Linked DNA regions of Homo sapiens: region 1 is linked to region 2. The links come from fine-mapping of genetic effects on gene expression. A gene starts in region 2. The other region holds a variant in brackets. All regions are shown on one strand. Distances are between the middles of the regions. Region 1 holds the start of P2RX5 (purinergic receptor P2X 5). Region 2 holds the start of HASPIN (histone H3 associated protein kinase).

Evidence for each region. PIP is the estimated chance that this variant, and not a neighbour inherited with it, causes the effect.
Region 1: its variant is fine-mapped to the expression of HASPIN in skeletal muscle (GTEx, PIP above 0.99).

What each region holds. Positions count from the first base shown.
Region 1 is chr17:3,693,270-3,698,632 of GRCh38, forward strand. P2RX5 (purinergic receptor P2X 5) reads right to left here and starts at 2,886. Exons shown (of 12, transcript NM_002561.4): 1 at 2,600-2,886. The coding sequence starts at 2,736. P2RX5-TAX1BP3 (P2RX5-TAX1BP3 readthrough (NMD candidate)) reads right to left here and starts at 3,135. Exons shown (of 15, transcript NR_037928.1): 1 at 2,600-3,135. RefSeq lists enhancers at 487-536, 937-986, 1,957-2,473, 2,586-2,635 and a silencer at 2,756-3,115. The variant C/T (reference allele first, on the strand shown) is at 2,481.
Region 2 is chr17:3,720,515-3,725,877 of GRCh38, forward strand. It overlaps HASPIN (histone H3 associated protein kinase), which reads left to right and starts at 3,389. Exons shown (of 1, transcript NM_031965.2): 1 at 3,389-5,363. The coding sequence starts at 3,422. ITGAE (integrin subunit alpha E) reads right to left here. Exons shown (of 31, transcript NM_002208.5): 27 at 3,174-3,230; 28 at 2,774-2,869. It also overlaps a transcript of P2RX5 not described here. RefSeq lists a silencer at 3,290-3,449 and an enhancer at 3,319-4,074.

The DNA.
Region 1 (5,363 bases), 27 kb before region 2:
CATTTTTTAAAAACCCTACAGATAACAGGTGTTGATGAGGTTGTGAAGAAATTAGAACCCCCGTATATCACTGATAGGGATGTAAAATGAGGTAGTTATGGTAGAAAACAGTTTAGCAGTTCCTCAAAAGGTTAAGGATCGAGTTACCAGATAAGCCAGAAAATTCCCAAGAGATTGAGAACATGGCCAGGCACAGTGGCTCCCGCCTGTCATCCCAGCACTTTGGGAGGCCAAGGCAGGTGGATCACCTGAGGTCAGGAGTTCGAGGCCAGCCTGACCAACATGGTGAAACTCCGTGTCTACTAAAAAAATACAAAAATTAGCCAGGCATGGTGGCCCATGCCTGTAATCCCAGTTAATCCAGAGGCTGAGGCAGGAGAATCTCTTGAACCCAGGAGGCAGAGGTTGTAGTGAGCTGAGATCATGCCATTGCACTCCAGCCTGGGCAACAAGAGCGAAACTCCATCTCAAAAATAATAATAATAATAATTAAAAATTGAAAAATTGAAAACATGTTCACAAAAAACTTGTACATGAATGTTCTCAGAAGCATTCTTCTTCTTTTTTTTTTTTTGAGACAGTCTTGCTCTGCTGCCCAGGCTGCTGGAGTGCACTGGTGCGAGTAGCTGAGATTACATGCGCTCGCCACCACACCCAGCCAATTTTTGAATTTTTAGTAGAGACGGGGTTTTACCACGTTGGTCAGGCTAGCCTTGAACTCCTGACCTCAAGTGATCCAGCCACCGCGGTCTCCTCTCCCAAAGTGCTGGGGTTACAGGCATGAGCCACTACACTCAGCGGTGTGAAAACCACCCAAATGTCCATCAGCTGATGAATGCATGACCACAATGTGGCAGCCCCACACGGCAGGATAGTATCAGCCACAGAGAGGAATGGAGGGCTGATAGATGCCACAACATGGGTGAACCTTGAAAACATGACACCAAGTGAAAGAAGCCAGAAAAAAAAAAAAAAAGGCCGCATACTATACAATTTCATTTATACGAAATACCCAGAATAGGCAAATCCATAGAGACAGATTCTCCTGCCTCAGCCTCCCGATTAGCTGGGATTACAGGCGCCACTATCATGCCCAGCTAATTGTTGTGTATTTTTAGTAGAAACAGGGTTTCTCCATGTTGGCCAGGCTGGTCTCGAACTCCTGACCTCAGGTGATCCACCCACCTCGGCTTCCCAAAGGGCTGGGATTATAGGCATGAGCCACAGCGCCCGGCCGCCAATTTCCTAATTTTCATACTTGTACTTAGTTAAATATGTCCTGCTTTCCCTGCCATGTGAGGACACAGCGAGAGGGTGGCCATCTGCAAGCCAAGGAGAGAGCCCCCCCTGAGACCCCGAACCATGCTACCACCCTCGTCTCAGATTTCCACATCCAGGACTGCGAGAATTAAATTTCTATTGTTCAAGCAAAAGCAACTCCATTTATTCATTCATGCGTTCATTTCACATCTATTCCCTAAGCAGTTAAGTGCTGCTGGGGCCCCACCCTCAGGGCATTCCCGGACTGACAGCGACATCAGGCAAATGATCCCCCAAATAAGCCCAATAATTACACTGTGGGAAGGCCAGGGAGGAAGGGAGAGGGAGTTACTGGAAAGCCCAGATCTGGGGGCTGAGTGGATGCTAAGGGAGTGGAGGAGGACGGGCAGGCCTGGCTGAGCAACAGCACAGCGCCTACGAGGCCGCTCAGGTGGGAGGCGGCCAGGGGCCTGGGGATGCAGCTCAGAGAACGCGGACTGCTGGACCTCCGAGGGAGAGCCAGGCGTCAGGGCTGCCCTCCCAGGAGGAAGCAGGAGGAACTCCACCGCATTTACTGAACGAGTGGAATGAGGCGCATCCCCATTGTCCAGCGCTGCTTCTCCCCTCCACCTGCTCACCCCCGACCCACCCCGGGGTCAGGGCTCTGAAGGCGCCTGGCAGAGCAGCCTCCACAAGTTGCCTCTTTGGCTTTGTGGCGCCAGCTCCTGCCAGGTGGCATGAGGATGGGGGAAGGGGATGGCCGAGCTGGGTGCAGAGATAGAGGCCTCTGGGCAGGACCCCCAGCTGGACACCAGAGAGGCTGGCCGCGGGTGGGGCAAGTTGACCGGAAGGGAGCTCAGGAACATGCCGGGCTGATGAGTTTCTCCAGCTCTGAGTAGGCAGTGACACCCTGTGATTATAAATAACCTGCCGGCGCCTGGGTCAGCTGCCAGGCCAAGGCCCAGGGAGGCTCCTGGGGCGACAGCTGCCACCCAGCCCCCTGGCATCCCTGCCCCCTTCCCATGGCCCTAACACGTGGGGACCCGACTCTGGGAGAAGCAGCTGCAGGGAAAGCCTGATAAATCGAGGAAACCAGAAGGCCCCTGCCCACCTCTCATCACCTCTAGCGCCAGTGGGGGAGTGGAGAGCCCCCTCTCTACACCCTACTCCTACACCCAAGGACCCAAAGAGGACCCCCACAGCAAGCAGGCTCACAGACC[C/T]CCAGCTACCGGGAAAACCGCGTGCACGCCTGCGAATTCCAGGACCCTGGAGAAGGACGCGGCGGCTGGCACCCGCCCTGCCCCTCCCCCGCCTTCCCAAAAGTCCGCGGAGAACTTACACGACCAGGTACGCCAGGATGGAGGCCTGCAGCAGCCGGTACAGCAGGCCCACCTTCTTGTTCTTGGCGATGACATACTTCTCGGTCTTGTAGTCGAACAGCGACAGGCAGAGCCCCTTGCAGCCCGCCTGCCCCATGGCGCGCTCTCAGCCGGGCTTGCGGACCGCCCGGCCCACGTGCGCTCATGGGGAGCACTCGGTCCCTCGGTCCCTGCGCGCCCGGCGCCCGCCTCGGCCCGTCTGCGCCCGCTCAGCTGCAGCCCGGGGTGTCCGGCAGGGCTGCGGGGCGCGGGGGCGGGTCGGGGCGGCCTTTTATTGACGCGGTTGAGAAAGCCTCGGCTGGGAGCTGGGCGGCGGCGAGCACCGGAACCTCAGACCGCGACCTTGCCGCTACCTCTTCTTCCTCCTCCTCCTCCTCCTCCCCTGACACAGTGACACCCCTGCAACCTACTCCCCAGCCACCGGTCTGGGAGCGCAGCCCCCCGGATGCGCAGGACCGCCCTGTGCTGTTGCCCAGCTGAAAGCAGCGATCGCGGAGGAGAGGAAGTGAAAGGGGGAAGGGCTCCTTTTTATTTTATTTTAAATTTATTTATTCATTTATTTTTGAGACGGAGCCTCGCTCTGTCGCCGAGGCTGGAGTGCAGTGGTGCGATCTCAGCTCACTGCTACCTCCGCCTCCCGGGTTCAAGCGATTCTCCTGCCTCAGCCTCCCAAGTAGCTGGGACTACAGGCGTGATAATTTTTGTATTTTTAGTAGAGACGGGGTTTCACCATGTTGGCCAGGCTGGTCTTGAACTCCTGACCTCAGGTGATCCGCCCACCTCGGCCTCCCAAAGTGCTGGGATTACAGGCGTGAGCCACCGCGCACGGCCGGGAAGAGCTCCGTTTAAAGCAAAACTCCCCTTTCTCTCGCAAAGAAATCCCAAAGGGTTCTTCCTATTGAATAGATGGGGAACTGAGGCCAGGGGAGGAAGGAAGGGGACACAACAGGTTTCTCCATTCACCTCGCGCCAGGTCTCCTGCCAGGGAGATACATTCTTGCTCCGTGGGCAGGGGGTGGTTGTGGGGGGGAAGCCGTGGCTCCCCCACAGGCTGGAAGAGACAAGACTTGTCCCACCTGAGGCTGCCTGTGTCTGCTGCGACTAATGCGCGTTTCTACTGCAGCAGCTGCTGCAGGTTTAAAAGCCCACACTCCGGCGGAGTCGGTGGTCAGGCAGGTCCCGAGTGCCGGCAGCATGAAGACCTCCCTCCCACACTCAGGGCGGATGGTGCGGGGGTGGGGGGCAGACGGGGTGGGGGCGGGGAGACACAGGCAACCCACCCTAGGATCCTAAAAATATGCCTGGAGAGTGCGCATGTACCAACTGTTTGGAATGGTTCCCAACGCACAAGAAATAGAACTGATCCATGCAGCTATGACTGCAACCCTCTCAGTATGTGGAATTCAACAGGAGTGGGAGTGGGATGAGGGAGGGCCTCCGGGGGGGCAGGTTTAGAACTCCTGACAGCCAAAGACGCAGGGCCCTGGGTGAGCGCGGTGTGGTGAGGAGCTGCGCACGCTTATTTTCTGCATCCTGCAGTCTGACCACAAGCAGTCCTGCTCCTCTCCCTACCCCTGGCTTTCACACACAAAGAGGCTCCCTTCCCTAAGCCACAGACTCGGGGAACTGGAAGGTACCCTGAAATTCATCAGTGTGATTCTAAAGTAAAAGCCCCAAGGAAGGTGTCCAGTTTCAAAGTGCATGGGAATCATGTGGAAGAAAAAAAGGCAAATTCCTAGGCCCTGCCCCTCAAATTTTCATTCACGAAATCTAAGATGGGGCTGGGAACCTGTATTTTGCTCTCAAACTGTCATTTGGGAAAGCGTGGATCTTTGCATCTTTTCATCCATTTCAACTCAACTGCCATTTCTTCAAAAAGGCCTGTTATTATTGCCCACCCAAAGTAGCCCCCAGTCCCAGCCCAGCCACTTTCTATCCCATTATCTCATCTTATTCCCTTAGAGCACCTGTCACTATCCAGTAGGATCTCGTTGACTTAGTGACTGTGTCCCATGCTAAGACCAGAAGCTCCCGGAGAGCAGGGACCATGCCTTTGGACATCTCTGTATGTCCCTGTGCCTGCCACATAATAGTTCTAGACATATTATTGAATGAGTGGACAAACCTGGCCCTGATTTTTTTTTTTTTCAACAGGGAGGGCATTTCGATTCCACCCTGCCCCAGTCATGACTGCGAATTTTAGGGGCTGAAGTCATCTTGGCTCTCCTGCCAGCCTCCTCCTCAGCCCCCTGCTAACACAGCACTCCAATGCTCACTAAAGCAGCCGCCACCGAGTGACATCACCCCTAAGAAGATGCCCGTCACCCTGACAGTGCTGCTCCAGGGTAAGGTATAGAGGGGAGGTGGACTTTCAGAGTCTCACAGGAGTCGCCTGAATTGCATCTGCCCTGGAGAAGAGCTTGCCCATCAACCCCAGCACAGGACAACATGAGTGTCACAGAGATGGTGCCACATTGAGTCTCTCCACTCCCCAAGGGAGTTCCAGGTTTTGTTCCAGGGCCTGTTTGTTCTTTGAAGGGGTCTTTAGAGACCAGGACCTTCATTTTTCTGGGGTGATTAGGGAAGGGGTGAGTAAGTGAGGCCCCAGAGCAGAGCCTACCACTAGCCCCAGTCCCAGGCACTCTGCTGTTCTTGATTCATCAAACCTTTGTGTGCTACTGGAGAGGCTGAACTGCCAGGCACTTGCCCTCCATGTCCTGTCTT
Region 2 (5,363 bases):
ATGGCCCTAACGTACACAACACTACATAAAGTTACCCAAACAAGACATCTGCAGTTATTCTTCAACTTCCTTTTTTTTTTTTTTTGAGATGGAGTTTCGCTCTTTCGCCCAGGCTGGAGTGAAGTGGTGCGATCTCGGCTCACTGCAACCTCCACCCCGTCAGGTTCAAGCGATTCTCCTGCCTTAGCCTCCCGAGTAGCTGGAATTATGGGCATGTGCCACCATGCCAGGCTAATTTTTGTATTTTTAGTAGAGATGGGGTTTTGCCATGTTGGCCAGGCTTGTCTCGAACTCCTGACCTCAGATGATCTACCCACCTCGGCCTCCCAAAGTGCTGGGATTACAGGCGTGAGCTGCCGCGCCTGGCCTTTTCTTCAACTTCTTTTCCCTTGTGCCATCCAAAGTCAGTTCTTGACTGACTGACTTATTTTTGAGACAGGATCTCGCTCTGTCACCCATGCTGGAGTGCAATGGCATGATCATGGGTCACTATAGCCTCAACCTTCCAGGCTCAAGTGATCCTCCCACCTCAGTCTCCTGAGTAGCTGAGACCACAGGTGCACCCCACCACACTGGGCTAATTTTTGTATTTTTTGTAGAGATGGGGTTTTACCATGTTGCCCAGGCTGGTCTCAAACTCCTGGGCTCAAGCAATCCACCCACCTTAGCCTCCCACAGTGCTGAGATTACAGGCATGAGCCACCACACCCAGCTTATTCATTTTATTTAACGTAAGAGATTTTTCCTTTTTTTTTTTTTTTTTTTTTTTTTTTTTGAGACAAGGTCTCACTCTGTTACTCGGGCCGGAATGGAGTGGCTCAATCATAGCTCACTGAAGCTTCAAATTCCTGGGCTCAAACGATACTCCTGCCTCAGCCTCCCAAGTAGCTGGGACTACAGGCATGAGCCACCATGCGTGGCTAATTTATGTATTTATTTATTTTTAAGAAATGGGGTTTCACTATGCTGCCCAGGCTGATCTTGAACTCCTGGCCTCAAGCAATCCTCCCGCCTCAGCCTCCCAAAGTGTTGGGATGACAGATGTGAGCCACCACACTCACAATTCTTTTTTTTTAAATTATTTCTTGTATCTGTCCCTTTCTTTTCCACCCCCATTGCTACTTCTTCAGTTGAGACCTCACAAATGTCACCTGGATCACTGTAAAACATTAAACTTGATCACTTGATCACTAGTTCCCACTTTAGAATAAGTGATCAGGGAAGGCCTCTCTAAGAAAATAACACGTGTGGCCGGGTGTGGTGGCTCATGCCTGTAATCCCAGCACTTCGGGAGGCTGAGGTGGGTAGATCATCTGAGGTCAGGAGTTCAAGACCAGCCTGACCAACACGATGAAACCCCATCTCTACTAAAAATACAAAATTAGCCGGGCGTGGTGGCTCACGCCTGTAATCCCAGCACTTTGGGAGGCCAAGGAGGGCGGATCACCTGAGGTCAGGAGTTCAAGACCAGCCTCACCAACATGGAGAAACCCCATCTCTACTAAAAATACAAAATTAGCCGGGTATGGTGGCGCATACCTGTAATCCCAGCTACTTGGGAGGCTGAGGCAGGAGAATCGCTTGAACCCGGGAGGCGGAGGTTGCAGTGAGCCGAGATCGTGCCATTGCACAACAAGAGCGAAACTCCGTCTTGAAAGAAAGAAAAGAAAAGAAAAGAACACCTAGGTCGGGTGCGGTGGCTCACGCCTGTAATCCCAGCACTTTGGGAGGCTGAGGCGGGCGATCACCTGAGGTCAGGAGTTCGAGACCAGCCTGGCCAACATGGTGAAACCCCCTCTCTACTAAAAATACAAAAATTAGCTGGGCGTGGTCGCCGGCGCCTGTAATCCCAGCTACTCGGGAGGCTGAGGCAGGAGAATCACTTGAACCCGGGAGGCGGAGGTTGCAGTGAGTAGAGATCGTGCCACTGCACTCCAGCCCGGGTGACAGAGCAAGACTCCATCTAAAAAAAAAAAAAAAAAAAAGAAAAGAACACCTGAGCTAAATTTAAGAAGAAACCACCTACGTCAGGACCTAGAGGAAGAGCAGTGTCAAGCAAAGGAACAGCAAGTACAAAGTCTTGTGGCCAGAATAATGCTGTACTGGCGAGCTAGAAGAATAGGACAGAATAACCCGATTATAAAAGGGGCAGTGGGAGAGAAAGGCGAGTACTAGGAGATGAAGTTGAAGAATTAAGCAGAGACCAGATCAAGTACTGCCTTGCTCTGGCCATGAAAAAAGTATGGATTTTAGTCTAAGTGTGCTCAAGCATCAGTTTTGTTTGTTTGTTATTTTTAATAAGCAGGGGAATGGCACAATCTAATGTCTGCTCTTAGAAGACGGATAGCTGTTACGTGGGAATTATTTGTAAAGAATGTGGGAAAAGCAGAGGCAAGAAAGGCAGGCCGAAGGTTATTGCAACAGCCCTGGCAAGAAAGGGTAGCTTGAATTACAACGGCAGTGGAAATGGAGAGAAGTGAATGGGTTTAGGATATATTTTGGCCCTGAAATGGCAGGGCTTGCTGCTGGAATAGACGTGGGGATGTAGGAAAGAGGAGTCACAGGTAATCCCTCGAGTTCCTTGTACTGTAACTGGAGTATATCTCCCTCCTGAGGGTAGCTAAGGAACGGGTTGGGACAGAGGGTTGGTTTTTTGCACCAAAAGATCTATTTTGGACATGGACATGTTATGCAAAGATGCTATTATCTCTTCTAGGGGCGATGCCCGTGAGCAACTGGATAATCAAATCTGGAGCATTTCAGTCTCAAACACCTCCTCAGAGTGATCCCAGGAGATCTCTGCAGCCACGGTGACATTTTCTTTATCTGAAGCGATGACACAGCTCACTGAATGCCATTCTTCCACATGCTGGAAAAGCGAGGTCTAGTGAACACAATTCCTTTCCGTGCGGAAAGTCTGAAATCTTTTTAACACTTCGGACACAGAGCATCGTAAGGTCCCAGAATAGAGGGTGTGAGCAATTTCAGCGCTCACCTCGGCCCAAGCGAAGCTCCAGCGGGAGCAATTGAGACCCAGGGACGAAGCTAGGGAGGGCCTGGCAGCCCCCGGCACTGGCCGGCAGGGGTAACCCAGGAAAAACAGTCTCCTGGCCTCTCGTTACCCGCTTCAGGCCCTCCGCCCTCCCCTGGCCTCTCGGGACGGCCGCGCTTACCTGAACCGAACTGTACGCACAAGCGCGCTCCTGACTCCAGGTGCACACCGTGGAGGCCTGAAACGAGAGCCATGACCGCGACGCGCTGAACAAACCAAGCCGCCAGTTTTCCGTCCCGTCCCGGCCCCGGCCCTGGCGAGGTGCGCATGCGCAGGGCCGGGAGCTAGGACCCCGCGGCAGGCGGGCGCGTCCGCGTCGCACGGAAGTCTCGCGATGTTTGCGTTTGAACCTCTTGGCGGGTGCCGGCCATGGCGGCTTCGCTCCCGGGACCTGGGAGCCGGCTTTTCCGCACATATGGGGCTGCGGACGGCAGGAGACAGCGGCGGCCGGGCCGGGAAGCCGCGCAGTGGTTCCCGCCGCAGGACCGGAGGCGTTTCTTCAACAGCAGCGGCAGCAGCGACGCCAGCATCGGCGACCCCTCGCAGTCCGACGATCCTGACGATCCCGACGACCCCGACTTCCCCGGCAGCCCGGTGAGGCGGCGGCGGAGGCGTCCCGGCGGCCGAGTGCCCAAGGACCGGCCCAGCCTGACCGTGACCCCAAAGCGCTGGAAGCTGCGAGCTCGCCCAAGCCTAACCGTGACCCCAAGACGCCTGGGGCTGCGAGCTCGGCCCCCGCAGAAGTGCAGCACACCCTGCGGCCCGCTCCGACTTCCGCCCTTCCCCAGCCGCGACTCCGGCCGCCTCAGCCCGGACCTCAGCGTGTGCGGCCAGCCCAGGGACGGCGACGAGCTGGGCATCAGTGCCTCCCTGTTCAGCTCTCTGGCCTCGCCCTGCCCCGGGTCCCCAACGCCAAGGGACAGTGTCATCTCGATCGGCACCTCCGCCTGTCTGGTTGCAGCCTCAGCCGTCCCGAGCGGCCTCCACCTCCCAGAAGTCTCCCTGGACCGAGCATCTCTCCCCTGCTCCCAGGAGGAAGCGACAGGAGGAGCCAAGGACACCAGGATGGTCCACCAAACCCGCGCCAGCCTCAGGTCAGTTCTCTTTGGCCTTATGAACTCAGGAACCCCTGAGGATTCTGAGTTTCGGGCAGATGGGAAGAATATGAGAGAGTCCTGCTGTAAAAGGAAACTGGTGGTGGGAAATGGACCAGAGGGTCCAGGTCTGTCAAGCACAGGCAAGAGGAGGGCCACAGGCCAGGACTCTTGTCAAGAGAGAGGGCTTCAAGAGGCCGTCCGGAGAGAGCATCAGGAGGCCAGTGTTCCCAAGGGCCGCATTGTGCCAAGGGGAATAGACAGGCTGGAGAGAACTAGATCAAGCCGGAAGAGCAAACATCAGGAGGCAACGGAAACCTCTCTCCTCCATTCCCACCGCTTTAAAAAGGGCCAAAAGCTGGGAAAAGATTCGTTCCCCACCCAGGACCTGACTCCTTTACAGAATGTCTGCTTTTGGACCAAAACCAGGGCTTCCTTCAGTTTCCACAAGAAGAAAATTGTGACTGATGTGTCAGAGGTCTGCAGCATCTATACCACTGCCACTTCTCTCTCTGGATCCCTCCTATCAGAATGTTCAAACCGGCCTGTCATGAACAGAACAAGTGGTGCTCCGTCCTCTTGGCACTCCTCCTCTATGTATTTGCTAAGCCCCTTAAACACTCTAAGTATTTCAAACAAAAAGGCATCTGATGCTGAAAAGGTTTATGGGGAATGCAGTCAGAAGGGTCCTGTCCCCTTTAGCCATTGCCTTCCCACAGAAAAACTGCAACGCTGTGAGAAGATTGGGGAAGGGGTGTTTGGCGAAGTGTTTCAAACAATTGCTGATCACACACCCGTAGCCATAAAAATCATTGCTATTGAAGGACCAGATTTAGTCAATGGATCCCATCAGAAAACCTTTGAGGAAATCCTGCCAGAGATCATCATCTCCAAAGAGTTGAGCCTCTTATCCGGTGAAGTGTGCAACCGCACAGAAGGCTTTATCGGGCTGAACTCAGTGCACTGTGTCCAGGGATCTTACCCTCCCTTGCTCCTCAAAGCCTGGGATCACTATAATTCAACCAAAGGCTCTGCAAATGACCGGCCTGATTTTTTTAAAGACGACCAGCTCTTCATTGTGCTGGAATTTGAGTTTGGAGGGATTGACTTAGAGCAAATGCGAACCAAGTTGTCTTCCTTGGCTACTGCAAAGAGCATTCTACACCAGCTCACAGCCTCCCTCGCAGTGGCAGAGGCATCACTGCGCTTTGAGCACC